Linked DNA regions of Homo sapiens. The protein of the gene in region 3 purifies or fractionates together with the protein of the main gene of each other region. This does not show direct contact. Each region holds a gene or a part of one and is shown on either strand. Other genes may lie near its edges. The genes, in order: CA9, CD46 and ITGA2.

Region 1 (2,525 bases), on a different chromosome or scaffold from region 3:
GTTTCTCATCTCATCTTACATCCTCTTTCCCCCGCACCCACTGTGTCCACACACACCCCAGGCCCACCTGCTTAGCACTCAGCATCACTGTCTGGTTAAACACAGTCCAGATGACACCCTGGGCACAGGGCGGTGTAGTCAGAGACCCCTCATATTGGAAGTAGCGGCTGAAGTCAGAGGGCAGGAGTGCAGATATGTCCAGTCCTGGGACCTGAGTCTCTGAGCCTGTGAAGAGGATCTATGTTGGGGTCTCATCTACATTGCACCCCCTTAAAGCTTCAGGGTATAGGGATACAGTTTCACCTCCCAGAAGCCAAGGTAACTCAACTCTGAGACCACTTCTTCGCTAAGTGCAGGCCCTTCCCATAAGACGTAACTCAAAAAAAAGTACAGGGCTTTGGAGCAACTGGAAGAGGCCTGAGGAAGCAAGAGAGGAAGAAAGAAAGGAAGGAGAGAAGGGAAGGTGGGAGGGAAGGGAGGAAGGAAGAGAAGGAAAGAAGAAAGACCGTCTGAGTCTACACTCTTAACTCTGTGTACCATCATAAAGTGCTGGGCCACAAGTTTAAGCCCAGAGCAAATTAAAAAGAAAAAATGAATCCCAGCACTTTGGGAGGCCGAGGCTGGTGGATCACAAGGTCAGGAGTTTGAGAGCAGCCTGGCCAATATGGTGAAACCCTGTCTCTACTAAAGATGTAAAAAAAAAAAAAAAGAAAAGAAAAGAAAAAATGATCTGAATAACTTGTAAATAAATATGAATATTGATAACTATACAAAACAGACACAAGAAATGCAAAGGCAGAGTTCTACCTAGTCTAGCAGAAACCTAAAAGGTCTAGTAGAGTAAGTGAGATTTAAAATGACCCAAGAGTGACTAAGAAGAGAACGATTTCCAACAAAAGTATTTACAAAGTTAAAATATTTGATGCTTATTAAAGATAAACAGTTCTCAGAAAAAGTTTAGCTCTCCAGACTTGACCTTGACAATTCCAAACACCATTTTTTGGTCTTGTTTTTTTTGTCTCATTTTGGTTTTTGCTTGGTTTTCTTTTTTTTTTTTTTTTTTGAGACAAGAGTCTCGCTCTGTTGCCCAGGCTGGAGTGCAGTGGCACGATCTCGGCTCACTGCAACTTCTGCCTCCCGGGTTCATGCCATTCTCCTGCCTCAGCCTCCCGAGTAGCTGGGATTACAGGCACCCGCCACCACGCCTGGCTATTTTTTCGTATTTTTAGTAGAGATGGGGTTTCACCATGTTGGCCAGGATGGTCTTGATCTCTTGACCTCGTGATCCACCTGCCTTGGCCTCCCAAAGTGCTGGGATTACAGGCGTGAGCCACCGTGCCCGGCGGTTTTTGCTTGGTTTTCAATCTGTAGGCAGCCGTTTGCGGGTAACTGTGTCTGTCAGCTTCATGGTTATTATCAAGATGAGCGCTGGCTCATGCTTCAATCCCTCCTGCACTGGAGGGAGCCCATCTCCAGCCTCAGACCTGAAGCTCCAAAGGGTGATTCTTTATGAACTAGGCCACAGAGATTAGTGGCCAGACCAACAAACTGACCTTCCTCAGCGATTTCTTCCAAGCGAGACAGCAACTGCTCATAGGCACTGTTTTCTTCCGGGCCCTCCTGGGGGATGACATTGTAAGACAGATGAGTGCATGTATCCAGGGCCATGGCTGAAGGCCGGAACATGAAGGGGGGTTCCCATAGACCTCTCCCATTCCTCAGCTCTGAGAATGCTGAGGGAACATAAAATTGTAATGGTTGTTGCTTTTTGTTGTTGCTGTTGTTTTTTTTTTTAGAGACAGTGTCTCCCTCTTAAAATCCTATGTATTATTTCAAACTCTATGTACTCTTGCTGTGCGAACCAACAAGCTTGGTGGACTGGTTTTCAATGACAAGCTGGAGAGAGAGGGAGAGAGCCCACTTTACTTAGGATACTAGGCTCTCAGTGACCCGTGCCCTTCTGACGTTTGCAGTCTCACTCACTGCTGCCTCCGTACATACTCCCCACAGGAAACCATATATACACCTTTGTGTTGGTGTCACCTCTGCATTCACCTTCATGATTCTGTGTTTGGCTTTTCAGGTGAGGTCCTGACATGCCACTTCTTTTATTTATTATTCTTTTTTCTTATTTTGCTTATGAACCTAATGTTAAGAACATTATGAACCTAAGAGTATGAACATATTGACATGCTATGATGGAGGCATTTCTCTGAACTTTGTGCTGTGTGGCTGGCATTAAAGAATCAGTGAGTGTGGCTGGGCACGGTGGCTCACACTTGTAATCAGCACTTTGGTAGGCTGAGTCAGGCGGATCACTTGAGGCCAGGAGTTTGAGACCAGCCTGACCAACATGGTGAAACCCTGTCTACTAAAAATACAAAAAAAAATTAGCTGGGCATGGTGGCACACACCTGTAACCCCAGCTACTCAGGAAGCTGAGGCAGGAGAATCCCTTGAACCCGGGAGGCGGAAGTTGCAGTGACCCAAGATCACACCACTGCACTCCAGCCTGGGCGACAGAG
Region 2 (3,659 bases), on a different chromosome or scaffold from region 3:
AGTGGCATCTCATTGTGAGTAGAGACAGTTTTTATTTCTTCTTTTCCAACATGTGTGCCTAATAGCTTTCTCTTGCCTTACTGTACTGGGTGGGATCTCCAATATAATGCTGAATGGAGTGGTAAGAGTGGACATCCTCACTGTTTTCCTTCCAGAATTAGGTCTTTATTAATTAGACAGAAATGTAAGTAAGGTTTTTTTAACCACTAAGTACAATGTTACTTTTTACCACTAAGTATAATTTTTTTGAACCATGAAGTGTAATGTTAGCTGTGAGATTTTTGTAGATGTCTGTTATCAGGGTAAGATAGATAGTACCCTTCTGTTCCTAGTTTGCTGAGAAGTTTTATCATGAAAAAATAAGATGATGAATTCTGTCAAACATTTTCTTTGTTTTTTGCATCTAATAAGATAACCACATGATTTTTTTTCTCCTTAATAGTCTACTGATGTGGCAAATTACACTGATTAATTTTTGCATTTGAACTAATCTTGCATTCATAGGGTAAATCCTACTTGGTCATGATTTACTTTTCTTTTTATGTATCACAGGATTTGGTTTGCTAATATTTTGTTGAAGATTTTTGGTCCTGTGTTCATCAAGGATATTATTTGTAATTTTCTTATAATGTTTTTGTTTTCTGGTTTTCGTATAAGGACAATGCTATCATCATAAAATGGGATGAGAAGTGTTCCCTCCTCTTGCACTTTCTTGAAACGCTTGTGTAGAATTGCTGTGATTTATTCCTTAGATGGTTGGTAGAACTCCCCAGTGAAGCCATCTGGACCTTCAGTAGGTTATTAACTACAAATTTTATTTCTTTGGTAGATATAGGAGTATTCAGGTTATCCATATCTTCAAGTGAGTTTTGACATTTTGTATCTTTCAAGGAATCTGTCCATTTCAGTTGTCAAATTTGTAGGCATAAAGTTGTTTATAATATTCCCTTGTCATCCTTTAAATGTCTGTAGGATATTTAGTGATATTCTCTTTTTCATTCTTTTGTTTGTCTGTTGAATAATTTTGTAAAGTAATCAAGTAAAGTTTACATCACTGATATTAAAGAATGACCATATGCACAAAAGAATATAAAGCTTTTTGGCTAAGGGATGGGGGGAAGTCAGAAAAAGGATGAGAAACACATACGGGGTGGACGTGAGGAAGGAAAGTGAAAGGTGTAGGCACCCCCACCTCACTTCCTGAGGCAGGGCCGTCAAGGACTCTCAAGATCGAGCGGCCATTAATTACATGGATTCAGATTTCTTTCATTCTAGACTTAAATTTAACCTTAGGTTTTGGCTCCAGCACCAATTTAACAGAGCAACGTAGGCATTTCCAATCCAGCAGCACACGCTGTTTCCAAGCGCATGTGACTGGCGCACCGCAGCTCCGTGCACACCCCAGGAGCTCAGTCCGTGCCCAGAGCAGGTGCCTGTGCTGTGGAACCTGACAGGAAGCCTCCCAGAACACCGCCTATCACAAGGCGCCACCTGAGGGGATCTGAGGTCTCTAAAGATCAACTGGTGCCTGTGATTTCCAAAGATTTAACCTTAGCCTTCAATGACATTTACATATAAATTGTCAAATAAAACCCTCCATAATTTACACTTAAGTCTAGGAAGACATGGCACAAATGTTCCAATGACAAAAAAAAAAAAAAAAAGTGTAGCAGCTGTGTGTGTTTTCCCCACTTTGACCAAGCTCTCACTGTAACACAGGGCATAAATGAGAAGGGTTGCACACAAATTTAAAGTATACAAAAAAAAAAAACCAAAAAATCATACGTTAACGCTGTTGACTTGTTAACAATGCAAGGAAACTCACTGGAAAATAAAATCCCTTATTTGAACCTTAAAAGAATGAAATGTACCAACTAAACTGTGTAGGCTCTAATGTAGCAGCACAGAATGTTTCCAGAAAAAAAATACATTGAAAAAAAATAAAAAATATTCAGAGATAAAACTAAAAAGATTAAAATATATATATCTTAAGAAAACTTATTGCTCAAAACATATGAAACTTAATTCTAAGAAATTCACCTACCTAAATTTAAACAAGATTGCTGCAGTTGCAGCTCGCCGTCTCCGAGAGACACGAAAAGTGATGAGGGGCGCAGGGCTGTGGGGATGTCAAGACTGGCCCAAGGTCAAAAAGCCCTTGAGGAGAGCCCTAGCTCCCACTGAGACCAGCCTCTGGCCTGCCCTCTGCAGACGGGAAGGAAGGGGATGGGTCTGGGGCTGCAGACCCTGCTGGAATTAGCAGAGGAGCCAGCAAGGCTGGGGGGCTATAGGCTGGCCAGTCTCCCTTAGCTGGATCCCGTACTCCACGCCTGGCCAGCACTCCGGGACGCCTGGCTCAGGTCTCCATCAGGATCTCCACTACGTGTTCCTACTTGCCCAGGTCAGAATGCAATTGCAGCTGGAGGTGGGAGGCCGGACGGCAGCAGGCCCAAGCCTCTGAATGCTTTGCAGGGCCACCTCCCATCGTGTGGGTCAGCACCGTGTGTCCAGGTCATCATAGGAACTGACCACATCTGAGGCCAGTTCTTCCATGCAAACTGGGGTTTTTGGTCTTCAGTATTTCAAATATCTCATCTAGCTACTTCTGAACGCCTCCTCTATTTTCCCCAGGGCTGTCCGTCTCCCAGATGCTGCTCTTCAGGGCTCCTGGCGCCAGTGCTGAGGTGACAGAGCAAAGGTCTGAAAACTGGCCCCTTCACGCAGCAGTGTCCAAAGCGGGGGGCATGGCACACCCCCTCTGGCTTCCACATGGCGGGCACAGGCCACAGGCACAGGATCTCTGCAGAAACCAGGCAGTGGAACAACGCCAACCCCACACTCTCGGGTGCCTGTGTGTGCCACGTCTCATCCTGGGCCATCTCCTCTTGGATCTGCCAGGCGTGTTGGCGATGAGGACCCTGCGGCAGTGGTTGGGCTCCACCAGCAAGTGGTAAAGCTGGAACTTCTAAAAGGACAAGTCCGGGAGTGACTGCCCCTGCCGGCTGCAGGAGGGCAGGGTCTTCAAGCTGGCTGGGGTGCCGCGCCTGGCCACCACTTCTTTCATTCTCAGTATTGGTTAATTTGCGTCTTTTTTTGTCAGTCTGGCTACAGGTTTACACACTTTATTGATCTCCAAGTAGCAACTGTTGGTTTCACTGATTTCCTCTATTTTTTTTTCTTTTCTCAATTTCATTGATTTTGGCTCTATTTTTATCATTTCCTTACATCTGCTAGTTTGGGATTTAACTTGCTCTTTTTTAGTTTCTTAAGGTGGAAAATTAGATCATTGATTTGAGACTTTTCTTTTTTTCTAACACAAGTATATTATGCTATACATTCCCCTGTAAGCAATGCTTTAGCTGCATCCTACATATTTGGATATTTTGAGATGTTGTGTTTTTATTCAATTCAAAACACTTTCTAATCTCCCTGCTGACTACTTCTTTTATGCATGGGTTATTTAGAAGTGTCCTGTACACTTTCCAATTCTTTGGGGATTGGCTTTGTTATTGATTTCTGCTTTCATTCTATTGTGATAATGCATGTTGAATGATTTCAATTTTCTGAAGTTTGTTAAAAGTTGTCTTATTGTCTAGAATATGGTCTACTTTGGAGAATGTTTCATGTGTACTTGGGGAGTATATACTTTTAAATCACTG
Region 3 (3,659 bases):
GTATTAGGAAACAGAGGTTCAAAGAGGGTAAGTAAATTGCCCCAAGTCACAGAGCTCATAAACAGCAGAATTAGGATTCAAACCAAGTCTGCCTGACTGAGACTTTATTGCTGCAGTGTTGCATGCATTTCCCTATGTGAGCATCTAGAATAGGTCAAGCACTGTCCATGTTCCCTTAGAGTATCTCAGTTAATCTTCACAATAACAATTAATTCTTACAACTGGATGGAAGCAGAAAGAATATGAGCTCTTATTTCAAAAATACCCAACTTTTACTTCTGACTAGCCATGTGAACTTAGGTGAATTATTTTACATCACTTATTCTAGTACATTATTTGAAAAATAAGATAATAAAATTCACTTTCCAGATTCATTGTAAAACTTGTATGGCATACATGAGAATGTGTCCAGTTGCAGGCGCTCAGCAACTGTTCCTTTCCATTCTGTGTCTCCGTGTTATGAGTAATGAAACCCGTGCTTGTGGGAGTGAGCAATTTGCCCAGGTTCATCACAGTAGGTTTCCTGGCGGCAAGTCTAGTTTCCTTTCCACTGCTCCCAGCCACATTTCTCTGAATCACATTTCTTTGTATGCACAGTCACCTACGTCACATCAGAGCTAGAATGACAAATGCTTTGTGGTGCTAGCTATGGTTCACAAGCCACCAATATGAAGACTATTTCCATATTTTCTTGATGTGAGATACTTTGTCCAAGAAGACACAATAAAGCAAAGATGCTTTTTCCTATAAGTTGATTTGAAATAACATTTCTTTATGATTTTTTTTATCATAGCCATTGTATATAACATCACACTTGATGCAGATGGATTTTCATCCAGAGTAACCTCCAGGGGGTTATTTAAAGAAAACAATGAAAGGTGCCTGCAGAAGAATATGGTAGTAAATCAAGCACAGAGTTGCCCCGAGCACATCATTTATATACAGGTAAGGCCTCAGGAACATCCCTTTTGACTTTATTTCTTCCTAAAGACGAGAGAGTGGTAAAAGTCAAAAATGGAAGCTTATGAGTTAGAAAATGCTCACCCTTCCAATGAATGCCTTTCTTATGTAATTCCATAAATAAGAAGCATATTTACTTTATGCTAATATTTATGGTCACAATCTATTATATAAGTCAGCAACATCAAATTTCATTTAGAATTGCAATGAAAGGGCTAAAAATACAATTCTTAAAGAAATCATAGATACAGTGTTTTCTTAAATGTTTAACAGAGAGAACTTTCCATTGGCAATAAATGTTATTTTGATATTTTCCTATCAGGGAAAAATTTTATTTATTGTTCAGCTACTGAAAAATAACTCCAATTGTGGTTTCTACTATTAGATTTAAGTTAACATAGATGAAATATAGTAGATTATGAGATAACAATTATTTGTTCTAATCGTATGCTGTAATTACTGTATTTAACATGGATTTTGAAAATTTCCCAAGTGAGAAAAATGCTTTTCAGGAGAAAACTTCCAGCCGGAAATTTATTTTATAAATGATGTGAATATTTCCACCTTGGAAACCACATAATGGCATTTGAAAGGATAATTTACTCAGGAAATCACTTTTTTAAAAGGATATTTAAGTACTTTCTTAGAATACAGTTCTCAGAATTTAAGGTGCGAAAGAACTGCCAGGGAAACTTTTGGGAAATGTATATTCTGGGTTCTTACCATCAGAAATCTAGGTTTGAAGGCCCAAGGAATATGCAGATCTAAGGAGCAACCCAAATATTTCTGATGTAAATGGATGGTACAGAGAGATCTTACTTCAAGAAATGCTAAGTGTAAACACTAGAAAAACATAAAGTTGACGGTTAGATGAATTAAAATCAGTTGAGTTGTTTAGTTCATTTTTCAATTTGAAGGTTTCTTGTTTGTGAAGACGTAGACTTCTTTTTTGTTAAAGTGACAATTTTATAGATTCCTTAAAGGAAAAAATCTTATTTCCCTTCTCTCCCATCCTGTGCTGACTGGTGGATCAGATTATACATGCAATCCCTAGTGAGGAAATGGAGACAGCCAAGCTGTTTTTCTTTAAAGTTTAAAAAAACAAAATCCTTTTTCACTATTTGATATCAATGCCAGTTAAAGTACATCCTACTTGCTAAGCCCGCAGCCAGCCAAGGAAACATCTCCTCATAGTCCAGAGCTGTCATGGTAGACAGGCCCCCAGAAGGAATAAGTCCTTCTGGGAGGACTTCTGGGAGGCCCCCAAGAGTTAAGAGTAAGTCCTGCCTGTGAATGGACTAAAGAATACCAAGATACCGCTTCTGAGGAAAAGGCAAATTCAAATGTTAGGGTTTCATTTGTATAGACATAGTGCTTTTTTGACAAGAACTGATGAGCTTAACTAAGAATCCCTGCTTCAAATTCTTACTAGACCCAAGTCTCTTTTGGTTTCTTAGTAGAAGAGAGGCTAAAAGCAGAATTAGGATGGAAGAAAAGAAGCGAGAGTCTTGATTATTCACAACAAAGATATTCTACATAATTGAGAGCTGACTGTGCTCTAAATTGTAAACACATTTGGAATCATTTTCTTGTTTTAATGTTGCTATGCTCTAATAAACTGACTCTGTCTCCCCCTGTATGTTTGTGTGTGTGTATGTTTAGGAGCCCTCTGATGTTGTCAACTCTTTGGATTTGCGTGTGGACATCAGTCTGGAAAACCCTGGCACTAGCCCTGCCCTTGAAGCCTATTCTGAGACTGCCAAGGTCTTCAGTGTAAGTGCAGCTTACACTTCCTGGATTTAGACTGGCAAATAAAGTTCCACAGTCACTGCAATAGTGTCTGAAGGATGGTTAGGATGCAGCCTGAAAATTCTTAATTTTCTAAATGAACTACAATTACATATGCATAAAGTTCACTAACACTTAAGTTCCATGACAGCAGGGATTTTTGTCTTTCTTGTTCACTGCTGTGTTTCCACTCCCTAGAGCAGGGCCTGGCCCATTGTATGTGTTCAATATATATTTGTTGAATAAATAAATAAAAATAAAGTAAATGCCTTGTGCTCATACTCAAAAAATATTACCAATACATATGAAGCTCTGCGTATAGCTGTCCCCGCCATAGACACTTTCATCTAGCTCCCCCTGTGCAAATGATTATCTTGAATTGTGTGTTTATTAATGCTTTTCTTTATTATTTTGTTAAACATTTATATATTCCTAGAACATTGTTTGGTTTTGTACTTTATGTAAATAGAATAATATTCTATGTATTCTTCTGTAATTTGCTTTTTCAACCCAAGAGCAAATGTATGGATCTTTTTTCCTTTTTCGTAGATTCCTTTCCACAAAGACTGTGGTGAGGACGGACTTTGCATTTCTGATCTAGTCCTAGATGTCCGACAAATACCAGCTGCTCAGTAAGTTTTACTTTAAAGCTTGTTGTAAAATGTAGAAATAAAAGACATACTAGATTACTTTATTCAAACGAATGTTTATAGAGTTTTTCTACAAAAGAAACATTCATAACTCATAAATACCTTTAAAAACTAAATTTCAATGTCTACCATCCACATAGGAGTAAAACAATAAGAAATATAAAATTATCTGTATTTAAATGGTTCCATTCCCTCTAATACAATAGCAACAAAGAACAATCCAATTGCATTTACTTATTTGTTGTCAGTATCATTTTGATG

The links.
Region 1: the proteins of ITGA2 (region 3) and CA9 purify together in Homo sapiens (affinity purification with western blotting, with the first as the bait; one study listed by BioGRID). This does not show direct contact.
Region 2: the proteins of ITGA2 (region 3) and CD46 purify together in Homo sapiens (affinity purification with western blotting, with the first as the bait; one study listed by BioGRID). This does not show direct contact.

Annotation. Positions count from the first base shown.
Region 1 is NC_000009.12:35,676,885-35,679,409, reverse strand, and holds part of CA9 (carbonic anhydrase 9 precursor), read right to left. Parts: intron 1,734-2,525; coding exon of another isoform or gene 1,719-1,733; exon of another isoform or gene 1,621-1,718; coding exon 1,554-1,620; intron 226-1,553; coding exon 68-225; intron 1-67. UniProt on the Homo sapiens protein: Catalyzes the interconversion between carbon dioxide and water and the dissociated ions of carbonic acid (i.e. bicarbonate and hydrogen ions).
Region 2 is NC_000001.11:207,761,961-207,765,619, reverse strand, and holds part of CD46 (membrane cofactor protein isoform 3 precursor), read right to left. Parts: intron 1-3,659. UniProt on the Homo sapiens protein: Acts as a cofactor for complement factor I, a serine protease which protects autologous cells against complement-mediated injury by cleaving C3b and C4b deposited on host tissue.
Region 3 is NC_000005.10:53,069,316-53,072,974, forward strand, and holds part of ITGA2 (integrin alpha-2 precursor), read left to right. Parts: intron 1-793; coding exon 794-945; intron 946-2,622; coding exon 2,623-2,733; intron 2,734-3,297; coding exon 3,298-3,380; intron 3,381-3,659. UniProt on the Homo sapiens protein: Integrin alpha-2/beta-1 is a receptor for laminin, collagen, collagen C-propeptides, fibronectin and E-cadherin. It recognizes the proline-hydroxylated sequence G-F-P-G-E-R in collagen.